Regions from separate parts of the Homo sapiens genome. Here region 1 is linked to region 2. The links come from fine-mapping of genetic effects on gene expression. A gene starts in region 2. The other region holds a variant in brackets. All regions are shown on one strand. Distances are from middle to middle. Region 1 overlaps ARFIP1 (ARF interacting protein 1). Region 2 holds the start of ARFIP1 (ARF interacting protein 1).

What was found. PIP is the estimated chance that this variant, and not a neighbour inherited with it, causes the effect.
Region 1: its variant is fine-mapped to the expression of ARFIP1 in cerebellum (GTEx, PIP above 0.99). The same link has a PIP of 0.9 or more in thyroid.

What each region holds. Positions count from the first base shown.
Region 1 is chr4:152,848,548-152,851,467 of GRCh38, forward strand. The region is part of intron 2 of ARFIP1 (ARF interacting protein 1); the gene reads left to right. Among named protein-coding and RNA genes, the nearest start is that of ARFIP1, 70 kb to the left of the region's middle. RefSeq lists enhancers at 1,870-2,164, 2,051-2,709. The variant C/T (reference allele first, on the strand shown) is at 1,722.
Region 2 is chr4:152,778,791-152,781,710 of GRCh38, forward strand. It overlaps ARFIP1 (ARF interacting protein 1), which reads left to right and starts at 1,164. Exons shown (of 9, transcript NM_001025595.3): 1 at 1,164-1,436. It overlaps TIGD4 (tigger transposable element derived 4), which reads right to left and starts at 940. Exons shown (of 2, transcript NM_145720.4): 1 at 692-940. RefSeq lists enhancers at 382-591, 1,042-1,201, 1,392-1,441.

The sequences.
Region 1 (2,920 bases), 70 kb after region 2:
TTAGCAGTCTGCAATATCATACACTACGATCTGCAGAAGATTTGGGAAAGAAATACAAGAAATTGTTGGAACACTGTTCCTCCAACTCCTACCCCCACCAGTCACATGTTGTAACTTATTTATCTCCTTTTCCCAAGAGATTGGAATCACTGTTAGGTCAGAGATAGTGTGTATACACAGCACAAGTTTTGGTTCATAGTAGTTGCTCAATAAAAGAATGAATTCTAGTAAATAGACTTAAAAGTTGACATCTTTTCTCCTTCAGCCATCCTACCCTAGGGTTTTCATAGCATGTGATTACAGTTTGTCTCCATTCTATATAGGAATGCAATATAATGTTTCCACGTTACTCACACATAAAAAATGTAGTAGCTCGGTCAATGGCAATAATGATTTGATGGGGGCTTTTTCAGAGAGCCAGTTTTGACCAAATATGTATGTTGATCCCTTTTAGAGGTATGGCAAATGGTTTTCAAGGATTGTTTAACCCATACAAATCTAGATTCATTTTAATACTGTTTGCTTTTCAGCTATAGGCTATACTTTTAATACTATTACTACAAATTAAAATTTTAAGTATATTTTTAATATACACATACATTAAATTAATTCTGGATTGAGAGTCCTGTTGAAAATACAATTCATAATGAAAGGTTGAAGGCTTATCTGTCTTAATTATAATCTGAGAGTGTGCCCTTATTTATAAACAAAAGCTATTAGTAATATGTTTTTTTTTATTTCTTGGAGGAATTTTGTTGAAAATACAATTCATAATGAAAGGTTGAAGGCTTATCTGTCTTAAATTATAATCTGAGAGTGTGTCGTTATTTATAAACAAAAGCTATTAGGAATATGTCGTTTTTAAATTTTTTGAAGGAATTATTTTGAATGTAGATACATATAAATATTTCCACAGTGATAGTATGTGAATGAATTCAGTATTTCTTTGATGCAAGTTGGTACATGATTCAAGCTTTTGAACTACTTAGAATCTAGACTAAGTGGGTGAGGCCAAGAGGGTAGGCAGTGAACCACCAAAAGGTACTTGTAAGTTCTTGTTAAATATTGTTGAATGAATGGGAGAGAGGGAGAAAAGAAGATTGAAATTGTGTGTCTGTGGCAGGCAGGTGTGTGTGTGTATGGTGGTAAATGGAAAAAAATCAATAAAAATGTTAGATTTACTCTCTTGATTAGATGGAATAAGATACAGGAGGATATTGTGATCATAAAGTGAGTTATTAAACTTATTTAAAGTGAGAATCTAGAAGTGTTGCTTCCGAAGTGATGACAAGGTCTAAGAGTGGCAATTTGAGTTTAGGTTGCCTGAGTGGAATATGGGGTATGAAAGATGAAAGGCATTAGAAATGAAGATGTTAATGAAATCTGAGACTAAGGTGTAGATTGGGTTATACTAAGTCTAAAATGTCTTTTATCTGCCCTGACACTTTTTTGGCATGTTGTCCAACTACAGATTCCCAAACCTGATCCAGATTACCAATTTTACGCATTTCTGCAAGTATACGGAGGGAAAATAAAATCACATACCTTTACATATCATTATTACTATCCCCTGTCATTCTGCATCAGCATAGGTAGGCAGGCTCATGGAACAGATTTTAAGTGTTTTACAATTTATATTTTAAAATATAGCAACTTACTACCTACCATAACATTAGTGGACTGTATTTTTAATGATCGGTGAAAACTTTCAGCCTAGACAG[C/T]GAATATATCAGCTTGGAAGGAATTGCTAACTGAACATCTATAATCATTTCCTGAAAATGTGCCCACCAACATGCAAAAGGTTAGAAACACCCAGTTTAATGGTGAGAGTTAGGGATAAAGCAGAAGCCCTAGATGTGCCAAAGTCTTCAATAAATATTTGAAATTGACTGGAAAGAAGGTAGATGACAATGTTGAGGTGGGGACGAGGGCAGTGAGGAAGGTGACACACAGGAAACGGGGGGGTTGGGTAGGGGCAGAGTTGCACAAGAATGGAAAGCAGTTCTCTACAACAGTTCCTCAAAATAGACTAAGGATCGCCTGCATCAGAATCACCTGATTTCCTTGTTTTGAAATTCGGATTTCTGGGCTTCACATTCCAACTCAGTGAGAATCACCACACAGCTAAGAGCAATCTGCATTTTTAACAGGATCCTCAGGTGATTCCTACTGAAATTAAGGTTTGAGAACTGGTTGTTTAGAAGTACCAATAGAGAGTTTAGAAAATGCTGACCCTGCCTTCTAACAATAGAATATTGATAAGTAGAATGTTGGAAGATAATCAGTTTTATAAAACTCAAGATAATTGTGGAGAAGCAGAGAGGCCACTTAAGGGGGGTTAATAGTGTTACAGAACTGGGGATGTGGAGGCTGTTGTAATAATAGCTTTGCTTCTGGCAGATACTTTTTATAGACAGCTAACTGTTAAACTAACAAAGGAGATTTTAAATTAACAGAATTCATCAAACATTTAACATAAGTGTTTTAGTTTGTTTCTTTAAAAAATTTATTATGTAGATGCTTTGGAAGGTTTTGTCCCTTTTGAAGCATGAGATGTTACTGAGAAAATTTCTTGCCAAATGAAGTAATAGACACTCTGCTAGATGTCAAGAATACAAGTGGTGAACAAGATAGATAAGCTTCCTGATCTTAGCATATGGTCTTCGGAATGGGAAGAGAGGATATAGACAAATTAATTTTAATACCATGTGAAAAATGTTGTGCTAGGCCAAGTATAGCATGGTCTGAGTACTGGTGGGAGCATGGAAAGATTACCTGAGTGATTACTATATAAGCTGAGGTCTGAAGGATGACCTAGCCAGATAAAGGGTGAAAAATATTCTCATCAGAAGCAACTGTAACAACCCGAAGGAAGTGTGAGACCATAGAACTGGAAATTCATGTTGTTGGAATGGAGAAT
Region 2 (2,920 bases):
TGCCTTTGGGCATTAGTCATTAAAAATATCTTGTCAGCTACTGTGACAAGTAAAGGCAGCTGAGAAGTACGGTCTAAAGAAGGGTAAATCTCGCCGTGTGCACAGTTACCCTTCGCATTTCTACAAGTGAAATGGGAGTAAAAATGAGCATTCAAAGCTGTCAAAGGAAAAGCAGTCCAGCAGTTCGAAGGGATATTCTGTGATGGACCAACTGTATGGTACAGTGTGTAAATGAACTTCAGGTCTATCTAGCGCCACGGGGGAGCCACGCTTTCGCACCACTGAGCTCTGGGGATGGGGAGAGTAGTGCAGGTTGGGGCCCCGTTTAGGAAACTACGAAGGGCTCTGAGAGAGCGAATTGTTCAGCAGTTTCCGTGACAGAACAATGATCTATTTAAGAAGTAATGGGGCAAGCAAAGAAAGCAGAGCTCGGTCATCCGGAAAAAGAAAGAGGAGCCGGAAAGAAAAGTATCAAGGAATCTACTGTGAGAGAGCGAGCAAAAAGCAAAAAGCGATCACAAATCCAGAGCAAGTAAGAGCTCAGGGATGCCGGGCCCGGGGGTCTAGCCTTTCTGAAGGGAGAGGGCTCCCCAGGCACGGGGGCAGCGCGAGGCAGCGCCCGCATTCCGTCTGCTGCCTTATCTTCGCATTCTCCCTACCACCCCCACCTTCCCCCCGGGACTGGAATAACCTTCTTCGTGCTCTCCGGTGGCTGAGAAAGCAGCTTTCGCTCTTCTGTGGTAGCGTGGAGGTGAGGTACATCTACCTCCACCCTCCCGGCACCAGCTCACGGTCTGTTGGGGGGGTCCTCCTAACGTGTGAGGCTAGGGTGTGTGAATGAAAAAGAGGGAGGCGGAGGCCTCCTGGAGACCTTCGACCTCTCAAGACCAGGCAGGGGCGCCCTTCCGCAAGCTCCCAGCTCTAGCCGGTGCCTCTGGCCCCGCGCGCATTAGGTCGCTGCCAGAAAATTACCCGGGCAACGACACCGCCGGAGTCCCGGATGTGGTTGCTAGGGCAGCAGAGGGAGGGGCGTAGCCCGCCTCCCGGAGAAGGGCGGAGGGATCCTCGTGGGAGGTGCGCTGACACCACCGAGACGTGGCCGGGCAAGGCCGGATTGAGGGAGAGAGAGGCCGTCCAGGGCCAGGGACAACGCTACTTCCGGTCTCCTCACTTCCGGCTTCGCTGCTCTTGGTTCTGGTTCTGGAGGCTGGGTTGAGAGGTCGCCGGTCCGACTGTCCTCGGCGGTTGGTCAGTGTGAATTTGTGACAGCTGCAGTTGCTCCCCGCCCCCGAGCAGCCGAGGTGCGTGGGGGAAGGGGAAGAAGGAAAAGGTCCGGGTCGCGTTTCCGCTCAGTTTTTGCCAGGGTTGAGGCGATTCCAGAGAGCGGCGGAAAGGATAAGCCTCGACTTAGAAGCTACCGAGTTACCCTAAGAAAGGTGAGGGCGGAGCTGGCTCGCCTGGGAAAAGGCGGGGGAAAGATGGTTTGAGGTGGCTGGTGGGGCGGGCACGTTGCCTACGGGTTCACCGTTCCGAACTTTCACAGGGCACGCCTCTCCTTAGTCTGTGCCGTATCTGCCCAAGTGTTATGCCTTTGGTTTCTTCTGTCCTTCATTCCTTCTGTCCCTCTGAGTGTGCCCCCGAAACAGTCGAGTGAAGGTGTAGGACCGGCCCTTGCAGGGAGGCACTCTCTTGGCTTTGCATACATTGGGTGGGAAAAGGAGTTGCAGGATCCAGAATCCGGACCTTTCTTGACAAAGTGTCGGAGTGGGCCACCTTCAGGCTTGCTGTCCAACCCTCATTTCTCCCCTCTTCTCCCTGCATCCCCAGCTTCCTCTCTCCCGCAGTGGGAGGAAGGGAGATAGTGACAGTCCCTCTGAGAGATTCATCTGGCAGTGGTGCAGAGAGGAGTCTTGCCTGTGAAATGTCCCAAGCCTGACTAAGGAATGCTGGAGTTTTGGAAAGGGAGTTGTTCGATTGTCTTCTGCTCCGTTCCTGTTTGCCAAGTTACTACTGTTTACGTGTCTAGGAAAAGGAAATAATTTTTTAAAAACAGTTTTTAGATGCTAGACGTTTTTCCCTTTTACTTTATTTTGTTATTACTTCCTTTGTTTTGTTCTTACCTTCCTCTTGAGCCCTTTGATTTCAAAAAGTTTACACTTTATACTTCCTGCAGATCCTTTGGCCACTCTTAGGATTTCTGTCCCCCGCCCCTACCCTGTTTTCTCCTAAAGTATAAAATTCATCTAACTACATTATTATTTGATAAGGAAAAGCCGGAAGAGATCCAGAACTTCGCATAAACTTTTGCTTTCATACTTTCACCTGTAAGGGTGTGTTCATGTTTGCCATTTAATTAACTTAATTGGCATAGAAATGTGCACCAGAAATGGTTACCTTAAGTCAGCCGTCTGTTAAGGCTTCAGGAATTGGCCTTTTCTTTTTTCTTTTTTTTTTTTTTTTTTTGAGACAGAGTCTCACTCTGTCGCCCAGGCTGGAGTGCATTGGCACGATCTCGGCTCACCGCAACGTCCACCTCCCAGGCTCAAGCTTTTCTCCTGTCTCAGCCTTCTGAGTAGCTGGGTTTACAGGTAGGCGCCACTACCGCCTAGCTAATTTTTGTATTTTTAGTAGAGACGGGGTTTCACCGTGTTGGCCAGGCTGGTCTCAAACTCCTGACCTCAAATGATCCTCCCTCCTCGGCCTCCCAAAGTGTTGGGATTACAGGCGTGAGCCACCGCGCCCGGCCGAATTGGCCATTTCATTGCTGTTCTCTCAGAGCGGCTACAGATTACTATATTTTACTGCTGCCTTAATTCTGCTTTTCTTTCGTTTGTCCTGTGGTGTTTTTTGTTTTGTTTTCCTTGCTTAGCATGACCCACGTCTTCTCCCAACTACCAAGTCTAACACACTTTTATCTGAG